Linked DNA regions of Homo sapiens: regions 2, 3, 4, 5 and 6 are each linked to region 1. Evidence: fine-mapped expression QTL. A gene starts in region 1. Each other region holds a variant in brackets. All regions are shown on one strand. Distances are from middle to middle.

Region 1 (4,093 bases):
TTCAAGATACCCACTATAGTCTTTGTTCTTATTCAAAATTCAAAAGCAAAAGCTAGTCTTGTTGACTTGGGTAAATATAATGAAGTTGGTAGGAAGGTGTGGCTCCAACAATCGCTGTGACCTTCATGCCTTTATTTATATTTGCTTGTATGTGTGTGTCTGTGCACATGTGTATGTATTATGTATAAAGTCTCACATCTGCATATAATTTCATACATATGATTATTCTGAATATCTAACCCATGTTACCCTATAGATGATTAGCTAGTTGAAGCAAAGAATAAGGAGTAGATCTTTTCTTCTATTGCTATACAGATACTAAGAGACAGAGTTCCATTTTCAGAACTTTCTCTTCGTCTCTGTCCCTTTGAACATCGGGGTTGGGAAGTGGGGAAGAAAGCAGTTTTAGAAGACGAATTAAAACCTGCCTTTACTCCAACTTGGTTTTTTGAGAGCTTAAAGAAAAGCAAAAGTGGGAAACAGTGATATTTCCTGTCAATTCTAAATCCCACATAATTATAGTGAAACTGAACATAAAATATTCCTTTCTTATGCTTTAAATGATGACTCTTTGTGAAGTTATAATAGACAATGTATTTTTCGAATGATTAATTCACCTACACAGCTTTGATTGTCACTACATAAAATAGTTTGCTGTCAGTGTTTTTTTTTTAAATCTTACCTCCACCACCTCCTCATAGTCTTCGTCATCTGCCATTTTTCCAGAGTAGTAGTGGCACCTACAAACTTTTCATATTCCATACAAATGAAAACATATTAGAGTCTATTCCCAGCACAGAAATTATCTTATGACATTATAAAAATAGAATTTGAAGCTAAACTATTGTACAAATTCATATATTGTTGCAGGCTAAAGGAGAGAAGACATTTAAAATACAAGTATAAACAGCAGAAGCTTCAAATTTCTTTCTCTTTATTCCTTCAGTGTTGGGAATTGCTACTTCTACATAATCAGTTTAGTTAAAATTGTAAAACGAAATTGAGGTAAGGAAGTGAGAGAGTTTGGACTCAGGGAACAGAGAATTTAAACTTCCAAACACTTAGAGAAAAGACATTTTCCAGCAAAAATTTTAGTGAAAGGTCAGCTTGGGTTTCAGAAGAAGCTGAAATTTATCCCCCAGCACCAAAATTCTAAGAGGGCTGACTTAGTTTTCCATACTGCCCTGATCCACTGTTTGCAATATATCTTAGGCTTCAAATTGGAACCCATAAAAATACATCTGTCAATAAATTTTAAAAGAAAAAAAGAAACCTCAAGGCAATGGGGTTATTTTCTTCCCGAACACCATTGGCTTATACAGACTTTTTCTTTCGTTTCTGTAGCTCTCGTTCAAACCTGAAAAATAACAAAGTTGTAAAGCATTGATTGAGGTACATATAGGATTGTCAGTCCTTAGCCTAAGCTTCTAATGCAGAAAACAGCGAAAGGATCTCTCAAGGCCTCTACAGTTTGACGCCAGAGAGTAAGACTCTTGATATGAAGTGGATGATGAGTTGGAACAGCTGTCCCTTCATCCAAAGATGTTTGCCATGTAAACCAATACCCTGCAGTGGCTGGTTTTGTTAAGCTAGCGAAACTGCCACTCCTCAGGCAAATGAAGCCCAGTAGAACAGGATAAATATAGGAACGTAGAGCAGCGTATCTTCTTTTTCACACTAATATATTTAGAGAAAAATATCAAAGGCAAAAAAATGTTAGACAAGAGAGCCAATTCAGTCAAGCAATAAATTGGTTAGCAAAGGACTTGACTCTAATCACACACGGTACATAGCAGATATTAGTAGGGCCTTAGTAGGGCAATGGGGTTAAACTCTCCTAGCCATATTTCTACCACTAATTTCCTCAGTTATGGCCCAAACCTTTGAAAAATACTTCGAGGGAAGTTGTGGAGCATCTCCTGAAAGAGTATTACAGAAAAAGTCATAAACTGGCCTTACCTTCAATCTACCAAATAAATTTCCTCAGCAGCAAAGCCTCTCCCAACTCTCCCCTCCTGAGAACCCCAGGCAAAAGCCAGCGTGATGCCTGGGCTCCGAATTATCATGTGGCAAGAGCAACCAATCAGATCTTGAGTTGCTCAAATTTCAGAAGCTAAATTTACCAAGTGATCTTCTGAAAACCACCTGTTCATCAATTCCACTAAAGGATAAAGGGTAACAAATTGCTTGCTTAGAACAATTCAAATGGAATCAAATTTTACCTAACTTCCAGCCTGTGCAGTTCAATTTTAGGTTGAATTTCCCATTTACTGAGGCCCCATTCAATGTCATATTCATGCAAAAGAATTTAGTAGAAAATAAGCATGACTTTGAGAGGCTTTAACCCTTCCGTGACTGCTTTCTTCATGTCATTTGTCCAGTCATGGTGGTAAATGTACTCACTCTGGTAAGGTTCACCAGGTGAGCTACAGGTAAGTTACTGGTGCTAGTGTGAAAGAAACTGAGGAATAAGACCCAGTAAACATCAAGTTGACAAAAGCAATTTTTAAAAATGTGATGAGTGAAGTTAAAGGTGAAAATATTTGACAATGGCACTAAATAAGATATCCACAGGGTGTAATTAGAAAGATTAGACCCCATCATTTTTCTGTTACTAAACCAAGAGGGTATACCAAAATCCTATTTAGCACCTTCTCCCTCCTTAGATAAGGCAAGCTGCTAGGAATACAGAACCTCTCTCATATGTAACCGAGTTAGTGATTTTTCTATTAACTCAGATGACTCCTGGCTCCCAGAAGCAACGTGTGAATGCGGACACAAACAGGCTCAATTTCTGAACAGCAAGAGCAGATAACATGGAAATCAGTAACTTATCAGGAGAAAATAATGCCCTATTTGGCAAATCCGAACGTAAGACATTTCCTTCATAAAAATTATCTAACCATTTTCTTAAAACTTGCCTGATGTCTTTCTTGCACTTTCTTTGCTCCTGAAGTATTTTTTCTAATTTAAAATCTAATTCTATCTGTCTGTCTGTCTGTCCTTACACACAGCGACAGAAATCACAGGCTCTTATGTGACAGAGAACTGCTCTTTCTCTGGGTTGCTCCTGTATTCAGGCAAAACCCTGTGAGTCACCTATATCTTGATATGGATTTGAGATTAAACATATTGTAATATTTTTTCTTTTTTAAGTTAAACATTAGAAAGTAATCTCGCTGGGCGTGGTGGCTCACGCCTGTAATCCCAACACTTTGGGAGGCCGAGGCGGGCAGATTGTCTGAGGCCAGGAGTTTGAGAAAGTAATCTCATATTTCAAATACATGTACCTTTTCCCCCTCCATGATTCACATGGTAGTAAATAAAATCTAACAGAATTTTATCATCTTAACTGATTATACCTGTTCATCTTGTATGTTCTCACAGGTCTTATGACCAAAGGATATTTATGTAATATGAGATCACTCACTTGGTAGCTGCAAACTAGAATTGTGACTTACTAGTCATTACATGCTTTAAAATGTGTTGTTGAATTAAAAAATAATACAGGCCCATACTTTAAAAACATAGAGTACAAAATTATATAAAGTAAAAAATGAGCATTGACCTTCTTAGTCATTTTTAAGTTTCAGATATTTTCAATATAGATATTGACATAAATCGATATACTTAATATGCAATAGACATTTTTATGAAACATCACATAAACATATCCTACTCTAATTTCCACAAATAATTCTATTGATTGGATAGAGTATAATAGTTTAATCATTATTAATGGACATCTAGGTTGTTTCGAGGTTTTTGCTATTACAAAATAAAGCAAAACAATGCGAAACAAAACACACAGTAAGCATCCCTGTACATTACCTTTGTATACTTATATGAAATGTATCTGTAAGGTAAATTTCTAGAAATAGAAATACTGAGGCAGAAGATATATGCACATTTTGAAAATTGATAGATATTGTCAAGTTGCCAGTCAAAATCCTTACACTATTTTATGTTTCACTAACAGAGAATGAGGGTTCCTATGTATACACATCTCAATATCCTTAGGGATTATTAGACTGAAAAATCATTACTATCTGAGCTGAATGTGTCCCCCCAAAATTTATATGTTGAAGTCCTA
Region 2 (4,093 bases), 62 kb after region 1:
TTTTGTATTTTTAGTAGAGAGGGGGTTTCACCATATTGGACAGGCTGGTCTCAAACTCTTGACCTCAAGTGATCCGCCCACCTCAGCCTCTGAAAGTGCTAGGATTACAGGTGTGAGTCACCAAGCCTGGCTGTAATTTTTTAGGCCAGGTGCAGTGACTCACAACCGTAATCCCAGCACTTTGGGAGGCTGAGATGAACAGATCACTTTAGACCAGGAGTTCGAGACCAGCCTGGCCAAGATGGCAAAACTCTGTCTCTACCAAAAATACAAAAAAATTAGCCAGGCATGGTGATGCATGCCTGTAATCCCAGCTACTCGGGAGGCTGACGCAGGAGAATTGCTTGAACTTGGGAGGCGGAGGTTGCAGTGAACCAAGATCACACCATTGCACGCCAGCCTGGGTGACAGAGTGAAACTCTGTCTCAAAAAACACACCACTTTATATGCTGAAAAGATAATTATAAAAATTTAAGCAGTATACTAGGATGTGTTTTGCACACACATCTGCAAAAACATGACAAAAGATAATATATTCACTATTTAAACAGAGCTCCAGTGGTGAAATTGGTTAGCACATGATACTTATATTTACTGTTTTAAGAATTTAATTTATTCACAAGAACACCAAGATTATAATAAATGAATAAAGCAAAAGAACAATTCAGAGGGTATTAAAACAGCAAAGAAAAATAGTCTCAATAACTAAATAGGTGCAAAATATAACAATATGCTTATCTCTCTATTAAATCGGAAAGGGTTTTGTTGTTTAACATATAGTGAAAATTTGAAATAGGCACCCTCAAATCCCATCCTACCATTTAATCCAGTAGTTTCACCTGAGATTACAGCCAGAAGAAATAATTTTAAATATGAAAAAACACACTAAGTAGATGGCCATTGCAATGTTATTTGTAATAATATAGGAAATACAGTAGAATATAATTTGGGGATCTAAATATATTGGAATTGTTTCAAAAAGATTTTTTCAGTAAACATCTATTTTGGTATAGAATAACTGGCTAGAATGCAAAGTATGTAATGATGAAAATAATGGGTCACCTAGGCATCCCAACTCATGGAATCCCAAAAGGGTGGTAATCAATCATAAGGAACACATTCAAAAGGACTGTTAGAGGTTATTCTAATGTTGTGAAAATCTCATCAATTTCATGGGACAAAAGTTATTTACTAGCAAAAAGGGGATATTCCAGATATTAAAAAATGAAGAACAAGCATAAAAGATGAATAAAATGACACAGCTGTTTTTCCAAAAAAGCTGGTATACCATTTACTATTTCAGTATCTGCAGATGCTGACAACAAACTCTGGTATGTTACTTACATTCCTTGATGTAGGCCCACACAGATTTCAAATACATAAAATTTGTATATATCTGCCACTGCATGATGCTTTTAGACCATTTTTAAGGAAATAAGTGCTATTTCTACTGAAAGAATGAATGAGAAAAACATACAGTCACCTAAAAACTCTTTTGAAGTTAGGCAGAATTAAATGAGAATTGAGGTAAGTGTTACGTAAGAATTAAACGAGGCAGTATGCTGCAATCACATAGGTCAAAAAAAAAAACCTACCTATGAGAACAAAAGAGGTAGAAAAAAACAACAAAAAC[G/A]TTAGTAGTCCATTCATTCATTCGTCAACACATATAAATTGAACACCTGTTACATACCAGGCACTGTGTTCAGCACAGAGAGATATAATTGCCATCCTGGGGCTTACATTCTAGCGGAGGGGACAAACACAACATTCAAGTCAGCATGTCACTGGGGCTGACTCCTCTCTCCCTGCTTTTTTCCCTTTTTTCTTCTGTTTACTATCAACTATGCTCATGAATGTTCGCTTTAATAATATTCATTTTAAATGACTGAACTTTTCTCAGATTTTAAAAGAAATCAACTATGCAAACTGATCATTATTTGTCAGGCTCATTTCCAATTCTAACATTCAGAAATACAAGATAGAGAGCACTCTATAAATTGACCAAGTGCCAGAAAAGTTTCCTAGAGAAGATCAAGACAATCTTTCTGTCATTTGTACAATGCAGCTGTCATACCTTTTCAATTACCATGTGGATCCCAGTCTTTCCAACACTGAATCTGTATGTTTAGAGAATAAACCAGAATAAAAACACTGACAACACAGAGGTGTGAATAGTAATTATAATTAACCCTTTCTAAAAGAAAAGGTATATGTAATAGTACATAATAGAGTAACAATTGTAACTCAAGTCTTTTTTTTTCCTTTTTACTCAAAGCATAAACCAGACACAATACGTTATACCAGATTAACATGCAACTTAAAAAGAGGTTAATGTACATACTAAGCATGGAAATTCACCAGTAAAATCTCATTTGTCATTTTACCCCCACTACCTTGACATTATTCTTCCATTTCATAATCAACAAGGTTCTACTTCTGGTCACCTGATAAATGCCTTGCATTCCTGGAGCTTGACATTTCAGTCAATTATGGACACAAGAACAATGTTACAAGCATAAAGAAAAAATGCATCTACGAAACAGCTGACTGCACTGCTTTCAATGGAAAGGTCCCCACTCCAACCTGCCCACTCCCTCCCTTTTCTCAGCACAAACATAAATATCCCCCAGTCATTCATGAAGCTGTGTTGTCAAAAAGGTCCTGAAGCATTATTTCCCTAAACACCTAACACATCAGCACTGACCAAATAAAAACCACCCAAGCACTCTAAAATTCTCACTTTTTCAAACATTCCTTGTGTGTAAAATTTTCTAAGCATACAGAGAAACACAAGTTCACAAAATGATAAAAAGATAAGACAAAATTTCTGCCTCTTCTTGAATGCAAATCTTGAGTCAAAACCTTTTATTGTTTTGGAAATTCAAATACAAGAAACCTAAGGTTTTCTTATTTGCTTGTCAATATGCATAGAGCCCAATTGGCAGGGATGGAGAGGGGACGGGGGAAGGTGTTATACAAACAGACTAGGTGGAACCCATTTTTACCTAGGCTTCTCTAGGACAATATGATAAACAAGAAAGATTAGTATCTACTAGAAGAATTTGTCATATTTAAAATCAATATGATTAGTAAAATGTATTTTAAGTACAAATTAAAATGATTAGTATACATTTCTCTCATCTCTAGCAAACAAGAGAGCCCTCATTAGACATAGCTGCCTCCTCAATGCTGTATCTTGGACATTAGCCTAAAAAAATATCTTTAAAAGTGCTTTGCAGGTATCACCTCATCTCATGGAACCATAGAGGGATCTAAGAAAAGGCTACTCCAATCTAAAGGACTATTTTCAAGCAAAAATAGAGGAATTCTGTGTATCATCAATGAAAGAAGTTTAGGGGAAGGGTATAGTACATATTACAATAATTTAAAATCATACGCACATTTCACTTTCCATGCACGATGATTTTAACATGAAACAATGTAACTATACATCACTGAAAATACAATCAAGCTTTGCCCCAGAACTTACAGCCACTCTCTATAGTCAGTTAAGAAAAACCCTGGAAGAATATATGATAAATGTATTCAGATTCTATTAGTTTTATTTGTAAGCAGATTCTAAACAAAGAGGATGAATTTGGGCACATATACACATGCACAAATGAAATGGTTCAACATCTAAATGATATGACACAAAATTACCACTATGAGAATCAAGAGGCTACTCTTATGCAAGCAACAAACTTTTACTTATGATTTCAAACATACAGTTTAATTTTCTGTTAAAACTGTTTTAAAAAACAGTACTAGGGTTCAGTTTTCTAGTCTCGGCATGAACTAATGCCAGGGACCTATTTGAATTAGGAAAGAGACAAAATGGTGTGATTCGTGCTTCATTACATCATGGTTTGTTGAGGGTTAGGTGAATATCTTCCATTTCAAGACTTTTTATTTAGGCCAGGCGCGGTGGCTCACACCTGTAATCCCACCACTTTAGGAGGTTGAGGCGGGCAGATTACGAGGTCAGGAGATTGAGACCATCCTGGCTAACACGGTGAAACCCCATCTCTACTAAAAATACAAAACATTAGCCGGGCGTAGTGGCAGGCGCCTGCAGTCCCAGCTACTTGTG
Region 3 (4,093 bases), 23 kb after region 1:
AAGAGAGCTCTCACCAGACTCTAAATCTGCCAGCACCTTGATCTTGGACTTCCCAGCCTTCTGAACTATGAGAAATACATTTCTGTTGTTCAAGCCTCTCAGTCTATCGTATCTTGGTATAGCAGCTCAAACTGACTAATAGTATTCTAAAAGACTATCCAAGGTATGGTATTTTTTAGTGAGAAAAATGAGATAATAAACTAGTAATGTGCTAATCTCAAGTGAATATCCAAAACAAACCCAGGACCTGATTAGCAGTTTGGAACTGACTTCTACTTCCTGGAATAAGAAAAATAGTCCCACATGTAAGGAAGATTAAAATGCACTATTTCCACAGGCTAAATACCTGACATCCTTAGAATACCAAAAGGAATCCTCCTCCCCATCCCAGCTTAACTCACCTTAGTGGCTTTCTCTTTCTCTAGTTGCACAAAATGAGAATGAACACAGGGTCACAAGGCCCATTGTTGCTTTGCCATAGCCACTTAAAGGTTCAGACCAGGAGCCCTAACAGAGACCATTATTGGCATTTAGCTAGAGGTAACCCCAGATGGTGTTTATGTACAGTCTTCCCCTGGACCTTTGAATATATTCCCACCATTTATAAAGCTAGCACCTGCATCTCTGTGCCTGCGGCTCTTTCCCCAGGACTCAGGGAAGCAAGCTGCAGACCAGAAGTGCTAAGGAATTAACACACCTCACCTGTCACCAAATATAGCACTCAATCATGACTCTCAAGAGTTATTGTATTAATACCCCAGCAGCCTCCCACCTTGGTTGGGATCATTTTGAGCTTTGCACTTACCCCAGTTTTCCTGTGGCTTTGTGACTCCACCTTCTCTTCCCTGTACAACATGCCTTTCTTTTCTGGAGTTGCCTGCACTTCTTAATTTCATTTAAATCCTCTTGGCATCTGAATCTGAAACAACTCACACTAAGACTCATTAAATCCAATGGCTATATCACAACATGAGCAAGGGAAGCGCTCACAAACAGATACACTGCAAAGGCACTGGTTATTTAAAAAGTCTTATCTCTACCACACTCAGGCCCTCAAGAGGCCACTTGAACAGGCAGGACACAGTCTCATATTACTGACTGTCCATGCCATTTAGCCCACCTAACATGCTTTCCTCCATCTTCTCAGCCCATCTGCATCTAATTCCTTCCTAGAAGCTACATTGAAACCTAACCACGCTGTTCTCTAGGATAGTGGTTCCTGATAATGTTCCTGGTCTGAACCATTAGGTGGCCATGGCAAAGCAGCAATGGGCCTTGTGACTTTGCATTCACTCCCATTTTGTGCAACTAGATAAAGAGAAAGCCAATAAAGTGAGTTGAGGTGGGGTGGAGAAATAGAGATTGCTGAGCCCCTACCCAAAAGAGGGGCCCACAAATTTGCATTTTTTTAACAAGTTCCCAGGTGATCCTAATGCTGCTGGTTCTGGGACCACACCTGTGAGGATACAAGAGGAAGATGGCTGTCTTCGAACTATGAAGAGAGCCCTCACCCACT[T/C]TTGGGTAGGGGCCCAGCAATCTCTATTTTCACAAGCCCACCAAGTGATTCTGATGTTAAAACAAAAAAAGCTTGAGAACCGCTGCTCTATGAAGTATTTCCTGTCAGCTCCAACCCCAGCTCCCCATTATCTTCCACATTCATTCAGTCAACTCTCAGCACTACCTCCTACCTCTCCTCGTGCTAGCCTCTTTTCTTCTCCTCCATTGCTAGTGCTTTAATTCAGACCAATCAATATTTCTCACCTGAATTATCAATACAGCCTCCCTACTCGTCTCCCTGAATCCAGGCCTCCAACTATTCTCCATCAGCTGCTAGAGTTACCTGTCTAGAAAGCCAATGTGTTAAGTTCCTCAAGTGTTTCAAGAAGTGCCTGAATAACTCCATCACAAGTAAATTCTGCAGGGTTTTTGAGGTCCCTCCAGTGGCCCTGCTTAAACAAGCAATGGGCTTGTGAAAAACAGCCCTTTACAGCAATATCAGAGCTCAGAGGGGACCATAGCTGAAAGCAATTCAGGCTGCAGCAGTGAAGGGTGAAGGGGGGCAGAGCTAAAGACAGATTTTTCTCATCTTTCACAGTATTCCCCAGGGCAGTTCTTACCCTCCAGGCTTAGTCAGCCCACCTGGCTTCTGCATCTACCATCCCTGGCTCTAGGATTTCTCATGTTCCTGAACTCTTCGAAATGAACTCCTTTGTAAACTAGACATAAATATTTGCCTTGTCTACTACATGGCACTGGTCCAGGCTCACATGAGAAAACATTTCCCACAGGCTTTGAAAGGTTTGGCATAAGGCAAAAGTAAGGTATTGTTGTTAAAAAAAAAATGTAATAATTATACTAGCCAACATTCAGAGAGCACTATTTTTTTTTTTGCCAGACCCTTATCTAAGAGATTAACAAGCCTATTTTTTTTTTTTTTTTTTTTTTTTTTTTGAGATGGAGTCTCTCTCTGTCACCCAGGCTGGAGTGCAGTGGTGTGATCTTGGCTCACTGCAACCTCTGCCTCCCGGCTTCAAGAGTTTCTCCTGCCTCAGCCTCCGGAGTAGCTGGGATTACAGGCATGTGCCACCATACCCAGTTAAATTTTGTATTTTTAGTAGAGATGAGGTTTCACCATGTTGGCCAGGCTGGTCTTGAACTCCCAACCTCAACTGATCCACCCGCCTTAGCCTCCCAAAGTGCTGGGATTACAGGCGTGAGTCACTGTACCCAGCCTCAACAAGCCTAATTTTATTTACTTCTCTTAACATCTCATGAGTAAGATATTATGATAATTCTACCTCTCTACATAAGAAAACTGAGGCACACAGATGTGGAAAAAACTGGCCCCAGGTTACACAACTTGCGAGTGATGGTACTGGGATTTAAACTCAGGTAGTGTCACTCAGAGTCCAAACTCCTTGCCCCTGTGTGCTGCTCCCTCACAGGCATGTCTGTGACTGTGTGTACTTGAAGGGCCTGACATGTCCTTGAGCAGGCCAATCAAGCTCTCTGTGCCGGGATCAGTCTGTTGCTCTATTGTCCATCCATCCATCCACCCATCATCCTCCATAGGTCATCATCCATCCATCCACTCATCATCCTCCACAGGGCAAGTATGGTCTGAATGTTTATGCCCCACTAAATTCACGTGCTGAAACATAATACCCAGTGTAAGGATATTTGGGCTGGGTGTGGTGGCTTATGCCTTTAATCCCAGCACTTTGGGAGACCGAGGTGGGAGAATCACTTGAGGCCAGGAGTTTGAGACCATCCTGGTCAATGCAGTGAGGCTTCATCTCTATTAAAAAAAAATTTTTTTTTAAAGGATATTTGGAGATGGGCCTTTGGGGGTTGATTAGGTCATGAGGCTTTCATGAGTGGGGTTACTGCTATTTATAAAAGAGGATTGAGGGAGTTCACTTGTCCTGTCTGCCATGTGAGGTCACATTGAAAAGATGGCTATCTCTGAACCAAGAAGACTCTGAACTAGGGCCCTCAGCAGACACCAAATCTGCCAGCACCTGGATCTTGGAACTCCCAGCCCCCAGAACTGTAAGCAATAAATGTTTGTTGTTTTTAAACCACCCAGTCTATGATATTTTGTCATAGCATTCCCAAACAGAGCAGGACAGGGCCAGAGTGATGAAAATTCCTGTTGCTGGGGTCAGAGCACCTGAGAGTGGGTTGCCAGGGTCTGCAAAGATACTAACAGTGTTGGATGGGCATGGTGGCTCATGTCTGTAATCACAGCACTTTGGGAGGCCAAGACAGGAGGACCACTTGAGACCAAGAGTTCAAGACCAGCCTTGGCAACATGGGGAGACCCTATCTTTACAAAAAAAAAAAATTAGCTGGGCATGGTGGTGTGTACCTGTGGTCCTAGCTACTTGGGAAGCTGAGGTGGGAGGATCACTTGAGCCTGGGAGGTCAAGGATTCAGTGAGCCGTGATTGTGCCACTGCACTCCAGCCTGGGTGACAGAGTGAGACCTTGTCTTAAAAAAATAAAATAAAATAAAAAAGATACTAACAGTGTGGCCTTATACAAGTAACCTACTTGCTTTGGGTCTTGGATTCCTTATCTGCAAAGTGAGG
Region 4 (4,093 bases), 110 kb before region 1:
AAATTAGATTGAATTAAGGATACCGGACTAGTATCTGGATTTTAAATATGCTACAGATGCATTTAATATTTTTTAATATTTTTAATGACTTAAGACTCTTACAGGGTCACTATTATGTTTATAAAGTGGATTATTAAGATGTGTCAGTTTATAGTCTTTTCAAGATGAGATTTTATAAGAAAAAGCTAAAGTAAAAATAAGAATCAATTTAATATCTTTGAGATAAATTCCAGAGGGAATCTGTTTTTCTTCAAAATTTCTAGGAATGTTTCTTTTGAAACTGGAAGGTCAAATACTTTATTTATTACATTTTTTCTTTAGGAATAAATGTTCATATTTTAAAAATGGTATAAGTGGGAAAAAATGTGCTTCAATCATCTCATGGCTTCAGGCCAAAAAAATAGAGTTCTTTAATTCTTTCAGCATTTAAAAAAGATGCAGTGCTTCAAAGGAGAGAACACTTTTAGCTATCATCAGGGATGTATTTTAAAGCTTGTTACTTAAGAAAACTAAAATAAGTAAATGAGAATTTAAGAGGAAAAAAACAGATGTGTTTGTTTTGTTTTACATTTATGCAATGAAGGAACCACGGGCAATGGGTTGAGAAGAAATTCTAGTGGGCCATTCTGAAATGTGATCTTAGATTCCTCAGAGAATCAACATCATTATGCAATTTTATTTTTATTTATTTGTATGTATTCATGGGGGATGAGTGCAATTTTGCTACATTAATATATTGCACTGTGGTGAAGTCAAAGCCTTCAATGCATGATCATGCAATTTTAAAGAAAGTAAATCCAGCTGAAAATTTTAGAATTAAAAAATAGCCCAATATCCTTGCAGCAGTCTGAAAAAAAAATCTACTTCAGTTCCCCTAATGTAAACAAATGAGAGAGGATTAAGAGCTTCATTATAATCTGGAATAGAAACTAACTTCATCTGCCTTGGATAAAATAAACCTCCTGGGAGAAGATAATCCAACTGAGAAGCTCTGTGGCCAAGAGAAAATGGCCCATTCAAAAGTGACTGAAGCCAAGGCCAATCAAATATCTATAATCAGGCTTGTCCTTTGGTCTGTTTTATAATGCTGGAGAAAGTGAAATCATACCCTCTCCATTTTTTAAGGCTACATTATTATAGGCAAAAGTAATTATTATGGGTAAAGTAATAAATTTGGTCATCTTAAAAATTAGTACTTAAATTTTTCAGTGCTCTCAAACTGAAGACAACTCTGCCTTCCTTTTTCTCTAAAAAAAAATGAAGACACATAGACATGTTTAAAAAATTAGTATCCTTCTTGAATCAACCATATACATTTTTGACTTTGGCAAGAACAATTGAGCAAGACGCTATTTATGCAGCAGTATTTCTGGACTGCAAAGATATGCAATGACAAGTTTAGCAAGGCTGAAGATAGTTCATAAAAGAATGTATTTTATTGTTCTCAGGCAATTTGAAATGGGTGAATTTAAGAATTCTCATTTCAGTTCTTGTAAATAAAGCTCAAGTTATTTTGAGCACATTAAATACATCTAATTTTCATGGTGACTTGAGCATAAAGGAGAGACATTAAAGTTTATTAAACAAATACTTTGCACCAGGCTTCACACTGGGCATGTTAAATATTTTACCTCATTTAGTCATTCTTTAAAAATTCTTTAAGGTAAGCATTTTAATCCTATTTTACAGATGAGGTAATTGAAGAAAATAAACTTGCCGCACAAATTTTGAAGCAAGTACTAATTTGATGAATAGCAAGAATTATTTTTAATGAAAATTATGTTTTAGTCATTAATAGTTGACTTGAGATATTTTTTCCCTCCTGAAATGAAGATATTTTTGTGTCTGTCTGTCTATCTGTCTGTCTAATCTATCTACCTTTCTATCTGCCTATTTTTTAATACAATAATATGTATATTCAAGGTAGGGTAAATGGCATAAAAAGCCAACTAAGCTAACTGGCTTACATGAGGATTAATTTC[A/G]TAATTCTCACATTCCTACATCGGCAACAATCAATGTGGCCAGACCAAAGAAATAAAACAAATGATCTTACCTCACTATAATTTATTTTATTTTGTCTTGCCAACATGATTTCAGGTGTATCAGGCATAATATGGACTTGGGTCTTGTCTTTGTCCCAGGCTTCTGTGTATAAGCGCTGTGAAGGATAAAAAGGTTAATGAATTAGAAAAACAGTTTGTTGTAAACAGGAGTTTTCAATTAAGACACCATGACAAAGTTGAGAGCCAGCTTTCTTGCTGTCTGTTCCATGTATGTTAATATTCTTTTCAACCTCTTTGATTTTACAAGACATTTATTGTAACAAAATATAAATGTATACTAAGATATGAAAAGAAAAATATATATATACATATAATCAAACACACACACACATATACACACCCACGTGTGTGTGTTTGGTAACCAGGTCACTCTCACCCCAATTAAATAAAAAGCAAGTATTTCTCAAGCATATATTCACATCCATATCTGTAGTATGACTATATTAACAAATCCTTCCCATGATTTTATTTGTTTGATGCTGTTTGTTGTTAGTTTATTAGCTGCAAATGTACCTGTATGTGCTATCTCTAGATTTCTTTTTGATAAATGTTATGAAGATTTGCATCTTTCTTTTTTTTTTTTTTTATGAGACAGAGTTTCACTCTCTTGCCCAGGCTGGAATGTAGTGGTACAGTCACAGCTCACTGCAGCCTCAACCTCTCCAGGCTCAGGTGATCCTCCCACCTCAGCCTCCCAAGTACCTAAGACTAGAGGTGCGTGTCACCACACCCGGCTAACTTTTGTATTTTTTGTAGAGACAGGGTTTCAACATGCTGCCCAGGCTAATCTCAAACTGCTGAGCTCAAGTGATCTGCCCACCTCAGCCTCCCAAAAGTGTTGAGATTACAGGTGTGAGACACCATGCCCGGCTTGCATCTTTCTTGTTTGCTCTGTGCTTACCTAAATAAGTACTCAGCAAGAAAGAAACCATACCAAATCATATATAACTAACTCTTATAGACTTCAAACAATTTGAACCCATAATAGCTGTCCCATTCTTTTTTTTTTTTGAGACGGAATCTTGCTCTGTCGCCCAGGCTGGAGTGCAGTGGCGCGATCTCAGCTCACTACGAGCTCCGCCTCTCAGGTTCACACCATTCTCCTGCCTCAGCCTCTTGAGTAGCTGGGACTACAGGCGTCTGCCACCATGCCCGGCTAATTTTTTGTATTTTTAGTAGAGACAGGGTTTCACCGTGGTCTCGATCTCCTGACCTCATGATCCGCCTGCCTTGGCCTCCCAAAGAGCTGTGCCATTCTTAACTCTGGCTATTTCACAAGAGATGTCAAAGCAGAAATGCTCCCATATATTGTTATCTAACAGAATAGAGAATTCAACTGAATCACTATACATTGGATAGCAATTTAATTGGATTTAAAAAAGAGACTAACTTAATTAACAATAGGTATCTTGAATGACATATAGCCCTGTCTTATTTTCCTACAAATTGGGGGCTCACCTTGTTCATATTGAGAGCATTGTTCTTGGCCAGCACCTGCTCTAGAGAGTCAGTCACACTGGTAAATTTCAGCTTGTCCGGAGGCTGGCGGTAGATGTTATCACTCAGTATTTCAGCAGCTCTCTTGCACTTGACCACATCCATAGACCCAATGGGGACCCAGCCAATGCCTCTCAGCCACTGGAGATCAGATTTGTAAATGTTCTGGAGAGATTAAACACAAAAGCGAGTATTACTGAAGTTGTTTTAACATGATTTCAAAAATAAAAAAATAACACTAGAAAGCTTGGATAGTCAAATTTCATGTATACGTTCTTCAATATATGAAGGCCAAATTGAATACAGTCTCAGGTATTACTTTCTTTCTCTCCAAAAAAAGTAAGGGGAAGAGTTGCCTAAAAAATGAGCAGAGAGAAGAAATGTCATCCCTTCTGAAGGTTCTACCTAATGCTAGACCACTGTCTCAGTATTTCTATGAATTACTATTATGAGCACAGTTACCATGGATCTTAATTACTCACATCGCTCTGGAGGTCATAGGCCTGCCGAGCATGGATGACATCATTCTGGTC
Region 5 (4,093 bases), 36 kb before region 1:
TGTACTGAATACCTGCTGTTGGCCAGGGTATGTGCAGTGCATATTTCTTCCTTCACTTACTCTTCAAAACAGCCACAAATTATAAAATGGAAATATCAGGCAGAGGGGGGTTAAATCTTTGGCCACCCAGACATCAATGACAGAGCTAACATTTGAATGCGGTTTTGTTTGACTCTAGAACTCATGTTCTTTCCATTGCTTTAAGCTACATTTGTTTCCTTCACAGAATTGTTTCACTGTAAATTTTATCCACCCAAGAAAATGCAGAAATATATTTTTATACAAATGTATACTGTTTAAACTTGCTAATACTTACTTAGCCTTTTGAATAAACTTGATAAGTCATTGGATTTTATGTATAGAGTTATGAAATGTTATCCCTCATAATTGGGTGTCCTGAGTAGTTAGAGGAACTTACGTCACTCAGTTGTTTGGAATTGACTTGGGCTTGTAGCAGAACAGGAGAGTCTGTAACTTGGGTGAATTTTGTCTTATCTGGATGGACTTTGTAGGTGTGCTGTGGGGAAGCAAAGGCATTTGGTTTAGTAGTATCACCTGTCAGATCCAAGGTGGCCCACAGGCCAAGCAAATAGAACCTCATGCCCCACAAAGCAATGAAACTTGTAGTTAATAAAATATATTTTTTTCTAACTAGACTGTAGTTTGAGAGGTGCTCTTATATCTGTATGAGAAACTTTCCTATATCTTCGGGTTTCCAATAACTCTTCTTTGGGAAAATGAGCTAGAATTACCTCTTAAAATGTAGGGATGTCAACAAGGGAAAATAGGATGTTTACTACAAAATAGACTTCATTTCTTGCGATTGCCTGGCTTACATTTATTTGTAAAAGTGGCAACATTTTAAACATATCCTGACCACTAGATGCTATGGAAGGCAGTCACATTCAAAGTTCAGACTACAGACTTACGTCTTTACACTGATCTAGTTTCTTAATTGCTTCATATTCTTGAGTTATGGTCTGAGGGAAGAAGCCTTTGCCTCTGTCTTCTTCGTATTCTGCTTTGTAGTTTTTCTATGAGGAGAAGAAATTAGGCATAAGATGCAGCCATTGTATTCATGCCCTGAGAAAAATGTTATTTGGAAAGTCAAACAATTGTCTTAGAACTTACATCACTGTTTTGAGCTGTGACTTTCATGCAGTGTGAATGGTATGGATCCTCGAAGCTGCCTACATAATGTCCCAAAATATCTTTTAAGTAGGAATCTTTATATTTTTTCTGCAAGACAAAACATACTTCATTTATTAATTGGTGAAATAATGGGTTCTTTTTTTAACAGAAAGAGTGACAGTAGGATTGCTTACATCACTACTGAAGTTCTGCAGAACAGTATCGAGCTTGAATTTGGGGGTCTCGCAGTAATTTATGCTCTTTGCTTTTGTCTTTTCATAGTTTTCCTTGTATAGTTTCTGTCAAAGAAAAAAAATTCAGTTAAAGTAGATTCCTGTCACTCCCACGCTGATTATAACACTTACATTTTCTAACACTAAACAAAAGATGAAGAAAAGATATCGCCTGTCAACTGTCTTAAAAACTGACAATTGAGGCCAGGTGCGGCGGCTCACGCCTGTAATCCCAGCACTTTAGGAGGCCGAGGCGGGCGGATCA[C/G]GAGGTCAGGAGTTTGAGACAAGCCTAGCCAACAAAGTGAAACCCTCTCTCTACTAAAAATACAAAAAGTTACCTGGGCATGGTGGCGGGTGCCTGTAATCCCAGCTACTTGGGAGGCTGAGGCAGGAGAATTGCTTGAACCCGGGAGGCGGAGGTTGCAGTGAGCCGAGATGGCGCCATTGCACTCCAGCCCGGGCGACAATGCGAGACTCCGTCTCAAAACAAAACAAAACAAAACAAAACAAAACAAAAAGAAAAAAACCTGACAATCGAACACGGAATGTCATGAATTATAAGACTGTTCTGTTAGCAATTATTATAAGGCCTAAGTTTCATACATTCCAAACTCAAAAAAATTTTTTTTCTTTCTTTTTTTTGTAACAGCTTTATTGAGATTTAATGCATATACCACACAATTCACCAATTTAAAGTATACAATTCAATGGATTTTAGTATGTTTACAGAGTTGTGCAACTGTCACCACAATCAATTTTAAAACATTTCATCATCTCAAAAAAGCAAAACAAAAACACACCAAAAACTCTGTAGTTGCCAAGGCCTGGAAAGAAGGGAGAATAGGTATGAGGTTTATGGTTGGGGGGATTAAAAAAAATTCTGGAATGAGATGGTATTATTTGTGCAACATTGTAAATGTAATTAATGCCACTGAATTATACACTTTGAAATGGTTAAACTGAATCATGAAATGTGATCTTTTCTTTCTGATTTCTCTCTTAGCATGTTTTCAAGCTTCATCCTTGTTGTACCCTGTATCAGTACTTCATTAATTTTTTTTTTTTTTTTTTTTGAGATGGAGTCTCCCTCTGTTGCCCAGGCTGGAGTGCAGTGGCACAAACTCGGCTCACTGCAAGCTCTGCCTCCTGGGTTCATGCCATTCTCCTGCCTCAGCCTCCCGAGTAGCTGGGACTACAGGTGCCTGCCACCATGCCCGGCTAATTTTTTTGTATTTTTAGTAGAGACAGGGTTTCACTGTGTTAGCCAGGATGGTCTCCATCTCTTTTTTTTTTTTTTTAATTATACTTTAAGTTTTAGGGTACATGTGCACATTGTGCAGGTTAGTTACATATGTATACATGTGCCATGCTGGTGCGCTGCACCCACTAACTCGTCATCTAGCATTAGGTATATCTCCCAATGCTATCCCTCCCCCCTCCCCACCACAGTCCCCAGAGTGTGATATTCCCCTTCCTGTGTCCATGTGATCTCATTGTTCAGTTCCCACCTATGAGTGAGAATATGCGGTGTTTGGTTTTTTGTTCTTGCGATAGTTTACTGAGAATGATGATTTCCAGTTTCATCCATGTCCCTACAAAGGACATGAACTCATCATTTTTTATGGCTGCATAGTATTCCATGGTGTATATGTGCCACATTTTCTTAATCCAGTCTATCATTGTTGGACATTTGGGTTGGTTCCAAGTCTTTGCTATTGTGAATAATGCCGCAATAAACATACGTGTGCATGTGTCTTTATAGCAGCATGATTTATAGTCCTTTGGGTATATACCCAGTAATGGGATGGCTGGGTCAAATGGTATTTCTACTTCTAGATCCCTGAGGAATCGCCACACTGACTTCCACAATGGTTGAACTAGTTTACAGTCCCACCAACAGTGTAAAAGTGTTCCTATTTCTCCACATCCTCTCCAGCACCTGTTGTTTCCTGACTTTTTAATGATTGCCATTCTAACTGGTGTGAGATGGTATCTCATTGTGGTTTTGATTTGCATTTCTCTGATGGCCAGTGATGATGAGCATTTTTTCATGTGTTTTTTGGCTGCATAAATGTCTTCTTTTGAGAAGTGTCTGTTCATGTCCTTCGCCCACTTTTTGATGGGGTTGTTTGTTTTTTTCTTGTAAATTTGTTTGAGTTCATTGTAGATTCTGGATATTAGCCCTTTGTCAGATGAGTAGGTTGCGAAAATTTTCTCCCATTTTGTAGGTTGCCTGTTCACTCTGATGGTAGTTTCTCTTGCTGTGCAGAAGCTCTTTAGTTTAATTAGATCCGATTTGTCAATTTTGGCTTTTGTTGCCATTGCTTTTGGTGTTTTAGACAGGAAGTCCTTGCCCATGCCTATGTCCTGAATGGTAATGCCTAGGTTTTCTTCTAGGGTTTTTATGGTTTTAGGTCTAACGTTTAAGTCTTTAATCCATCTTGAATTGATTTTTGTATAAGGTGTAAGGAAGGGATCCAGTTTCAGCTTTCTACATATGGCTAGCCAGTTTTCCCAGCACCATTTATTAAATAGGGAATCCTTTCCCCATTGCTTGTTTTTCTCAGGTTTGTCAAAGATCAGATAGTTGTAGATATGCGGCGTTATTTCTGAGGGCTCTGTTCTGTTCCATTGATCTATATCTCTGTTTTGGTACCAGTACCATGCTGTTTTGGTTACTGTAGCCTTGTAGTATAGTTTGAAGTCAGGTAGTGTGATGCCTCCAGCTT
Region 6 (4,093 bases), 44 kb after region 1:
ACTAAGACACATACCCTGCCACGACAAATCCCAGAACAGTACTGTCAGTGAAAAGAGCCAAAGTCTGTAAAATATTTGAAGAGTTTTATTTTGAGCCAAATATGAGTGACCATGGCCCACAGCACTGTCTCAAGAGGTCCTGAGAACATGTGCCCAAGGTGGTTGGGTTGCAGCTTGGTTTTATATGTCTTAGGGAGACAAAAGACATCAATCAATACATGTGAGGTATACATTGGTTAAGTCCCAAAAGGCAGGACAATTTGAAGGGTGGGGACTTACAGGTCACAGGTGGATTCAAAGATTTTCTGATTGGCTGAGAGTTAAGTTATTATCTAAAAACCTGGGATCAATAGAAAGGAGTGTCTGGGTTAAGATAAGGGGTTGTGGCTCCAAGGTTCTTACTATGCAGTGAAGCAGGCAGTTTCCAGTAGTCTATAGGTGGCAGGCCTTTCAGACCATAGATGGCAAATGTTTCCTATTCAATCCTTTAAGAGGTGCGAGACTCTCAGTTAATCTCTTCAAGACTGGGAGGACCTGGTAGAGGAAAGACCTAGTTATGTTAATGGAGATTCTTTACAGAGGCAAATTTCCCCCCCAAAAAAACAGCTTTACAGAGCTATTTCTAAATATGGTGATGAAACATATTTTTGGGGTAAAACATTTTGGTTTCCCTCTTCATCTGTCATGTGATGTTATGAGAGTCAAGTTGGAAAGTAATCCATGTTACATAGGGTTAAATAAAATCCATCTTCTGAGACTTTCTGTTTGTACTGTGTGACTTCTCTGACCCCTTAGGTAGGGATTTAGACAAGAGAGAAAAATGGTCAGAGTTTAGTCCTTGGTATGTTTTGGTGTCTGGGTCTTGCTCTGTCAGCCAGACTGGAGTGCAGTGACACAATCATGGCTCAGTGTAGCCTTGACCTCCTGGGCTCAAGTGATCCTCCCACCTCAGCCTCCCAAGTAGCTGGGACTACAGACACATACCACCATACCTGGCTAATTTTAAAATTTTTTTGTAGCAACAAGATTTTTCACTTTGTTGCCCGGGCTGGTCTTGAACTCCTGAGCTCAAGTGCTCCTTCCACCTCAGCCTCCCAAAGTGCTGGGATTACAAGAGTGAGCCACTGTGCCCAGCCTGGTTTGCACTTTGAGATGCTCTGTTGGCAGACTCCTCAGCAAAGCCTGCTGCCTGCTGTGTCTTCCCACTGGTGCAACAAGCCTGTTGCTCTTTGGGTGTCCTCTGCTCTCCTGTCTCTTTGGGGCTCTGGGAGACACAGGCTTTTGCATATTCACCTCACTCCTGGTCCAGTGTCCTTACTCATTCATCATGGGCACTTTAGGTCTTTCTGCTGTTCCAGATGTTAACAGGTGAATGAAGTCTCATAGTCACCGTATCAACCAGTGGGTACGGCAGCTTTCAGAATAAAACTTTCTTTCTCCAATTCTTTGCATTGTGCTATTATCTATCAACTGGCATATATTGAACACTAGGAGGCTCCAGACCTGCCCTGTCCAGTACAGGAGTCATTAGCTACTTTAGGCTATGGAGCACTTGCAAGGCACCTAATACAAATTGAGATGTGCTCTGAATGTAAAATACACGATGGATTTTGAAGACTTAACACA[A/C]AAAAAGTAAAATATCTCAATAATTTTTATACTGATTACATGTTGCAGTGGTAACATGTTAGATATATTGGGTAATTAAAATGTATTAGTAAAATTAACTTTATTGTTTCTTATTACGTTTGAATGTAACTACTCAACAATTTAAAATTACATATGTGGCACACATCTTACTTCTATTGGACAGCACTGCCCAGGACATGTTTATTCAAATGTCTGTTGAGTGCCTATGAGGGTTTAGTCACTAAGCCAAGTGCTAGCTGCATGATGGGGCTTATGAAGAAAATCAAAGCCTTTGCCTTCATGAAGACAGATAGTAATGTAAACACCCTGTGGGTTCTTGCCGGCTTCCCAGATAGAGCCAATTTATCAAGGCAGGGGAATTGCAATAGAGAAAGAGTTTACCACTGCACTCCAGCCTGGGTGAAAGAGTGAGACTGTCTCAAAAAAAAAAAAAAAAAAGAGAGAGTTCATTAGAGTGAATAGGCAACCTACAGAATGGGAGAAAACTTTTGCAACCTATCCATCTGACAAAGGGCTAATATCCAGAATCTACAAAGAACTTAAACAAATTTACAAGAAAAAAACAACCCCATCAAAAAGTGGGCAAAGGAAATAGACACTTCTCAAAAGAAGACATTTATGCAGCCAACAAACATATGAAAAAAAGCTCATCATCACTGGTTATTAGAGAAATGCAAATCAAAACCACAGTGAGATACTATCTCATGCCAGTTAGAATGGCGATCATTAAAAAGTCAGGAAACAACAGATGCTGGAGAGAATGCGGAGAAACAGGAACACTTTTACACTGTTGGTGGGAGTGTAAAATAATTCAACCATTGTGGAAGACAGTGTGGTGATTCTTCAAGGATCTAGAACTAGAAATGCCACTTGACTCAGCAATCCGATTACTGGGTATATACCCAACCCAGTGGATTATAAATCATTCTACTATAAAGACATGCACACGTATGTTTATTGCGGCACTATCCACAATAGCAAAGACTTGGAACCAACCCAAATGCCCATCAATGATAGAGTGGATAAAGAAAATGTGGCACATATACACCATGGAATACTATGCAGCCATAAAAAAGGATGAGTTCATGTCCTTTGCAGGGACATGGATGAAGCTGTAAACCATCATTCTCAGCAAACTAACACAGGAACAGAAAACCAAACACCACATGTTCTCACTCGTAAGTGGGAGTTGAACAATGAGAGCACATGGACACAGGGAGGGGAACACCACACATGGGGGCCTGTTGGGGGGTGGGGGGCTGGGGAGGGATAGCATTAAGAGAAATACCTAATGTAGGTGACGGGTTGATGGGTGTAGCAAACCACCATGGCACATGTATACCTATGTAACAAACCTGCATGTTCTGCACATGTACCCCAGAATCTAAAGTATAAAAAATAAAAAAAAACCTAAAAGATTCAAAGAAACTAGTTAAAAGGCAATAGCAGTCATCCAAGCCAAGTGTTGATAACTTATACTAAGGTGGTAGCAGTAGACATGCTCAGTGGGGAAGTATGTTTCACCTGTCCCCAGTCTTCCAGTTATCTGGGCTCAAATAAATACAAAGACAAGAAAATGTAAATAAATTGATAACGAGGAGAAGCTCAGCTCTCTCTCTACTGTTTCCAAGGAGCTCCAGAGAGGAACTTACATTTTCCCGGTGATCTCGCTCACCCTCGCTCCTGTTCCTTGCTCTAAACTCTGTACTTGATTCTCTGTTCAGCTTGCTCTGAATGTGACCTTCCCGTGCTAATACAAGTCTAGGCGGTGCTAATACAAGTCTAAGGAAGTAGTAAAGCTTCACTGAAGACTAGGGAAAAGGTAACAAAAAACCAGAGTGTGAAAGAGAAAACAACCTTTACTTCATCATCCAACAAGCCTGTTGGCAAAGATCACTTTGGCCATTTCCTCCTCTCTCCTTTTCCTCCAGTTCCAGGGTCCAAACTCCTTTTCTTGAGTTTCAAAGAGAAAATGTAAAAGTCTCCCACCTTCTTACTCAGAGCCAGTTAGTGTTACTGCCCTCTTTCTCTTGACCTTACATCCAGACGCAGCTGGGGCTTTGCCTTCTAGAAGTACATGGCCCCAAAACAGAAGGATACATTTTCCTTGGTCGAGTCCCTTTAACATGAAATCATCTGAAATTAGGTTTTTAAAGAGAATTTTCTTTTTCCCACATTGGTATGACCTCATTTAATCCTCATATGAAGTGGATGTTGTGAAGCAGAAAAGAGAAGCTAAGAGAGGTGGCAGAGTAAGTTGCTCCAAATTATATAACAAGATCAAGAGAAGATTCAAAACTGAATCCAGCTGAAACCCTGGACCCATCACCACCAGCCTACACCACCTCCCCTGCAGAGATGGGCCCAAGGGCAAGGTCATTATTATCTCCTCACAGCACCACCACCTACTCCCTCTCCCTTTTGGAAAGCCACTTTTCACCTTGAT

Which allele goes with the higher level. Alleles are on the strand shown, and positions count from the first base shown. SD is a standard deviation of normalised expression in the study named. Not every link is listed here.
For the expression in prefrontal cortex of the gene that starts at base 2,038 in region 1, G is the high allele of the variant in region 2 and A is the other (large effect, 0.78 SD a copy in ROSMAP).
For the expression in adrenal gland of the gene that starts at base 2,038 in region 1, allele A in region 4 goes with a lower level than allele G (moderate effect, 0.50 SD a copy in GTEx).

What was found. PIP is the estimated chance that this variant, and not a neighbour inherited with it, causes the effect.
Region 2: its variant is the best candidate, but not a certain one, in a credible set for the expression of NEB in prefrontal cortex (ROSMAP, PIP 0.51).
Region 3: its variant is the best candidate, but not a certain one, in a credible set for the expression of NEB in blood mononuclear cells (TOPMed, PIP 0.82).
Region 4: its variant is the best candidate, but not a certain one, in a credible set for the expression of NEB in adrenal gland (GTEx, PIP 0.74).
Region 5: its variant is the best candidate, but not a certain one, in a credible set for the expression of NEB in prefrontal cortex (ROSMAP, PIP 0.81).
Region 6: its variant is the best candidate, but not a certain one, in a credible set for the expression of NEB in whole blood (TOPMed, PIP 0.55).

What each region holds. Positions count from the first base shown.
Region 1 is chr2:151,732,439-151,736,531 of GRCh38, forward strand. NEB (nebulin) reads right to left here and starts at 2,038. Exons shown (of 182, transcript NM_001164508.2): 1 at 1,960-2,038; 2 at 1,274-1,357; 3 at 683-747. The coding sequence starts at 718.
Region 2 is chr2:151,794,497-151,798,589 of GRCh38, forward strand. No RefSeq gene overlaps it. Among named protein-coding and RNA genes, the nearest start is that of ARL5A, 32 kb to the right of the region's middle. The variant G/A (reference allele first, on the strand shown) is at 1,634.
Region 3 is chr2:151,755,874-151,759,966 of GRCh38, forward strand. No RefSeq gene overlaps it. Among named protein-coding and RNA genes, the nearest start is that of NEB, 23 kb to the left of the region's middle. The variant T/C (reference allele first, on the strand shown) is at 1,517.
Region 4 is chr2:151,623,481-151,627,573 of GRCh38, forward strand. NEB (nebulin) reads right to left here. Exons shown (of 182, transcript NM_001164508.2): 69 at 4,043-4,093; 70 at 3,522-3,725; 71 at 2,054-2,158. Among named protein-coding and RNA genes, the nearest start is that of NEB, 110 kb to the right of the region's middle. The variant A/G (reference allele first, on the strand shown) is at 1,983.
Region 5 is chr2:151,696,219-151,700,311 of GRCh38, forward strand. NEB (nebulin) reads right to left here. Exons shown (of 182, transcript NM_001164508.2): 14 at 1,326-1,430; 15 at 1,132-1,239; 16 at 930-1,034; 17 at 419-517. Among named protein-coding and RNA genes, the nearest start is that of NEB, 36 kb to the right of the region's middle. The variant C/G (reference allele first, on the strand shown) is at 1,630.
Region 6 is chr2:151,776,194-151,780,286 of GRCh38, forward strand. No RefSeq gene overlaps it. Among named protein-coding and RNA genes, the nearest start is that of NEB, 44 kb to the left of the region's middle. The variant A/C (reference allele first, on the strand shown) is at 1,627.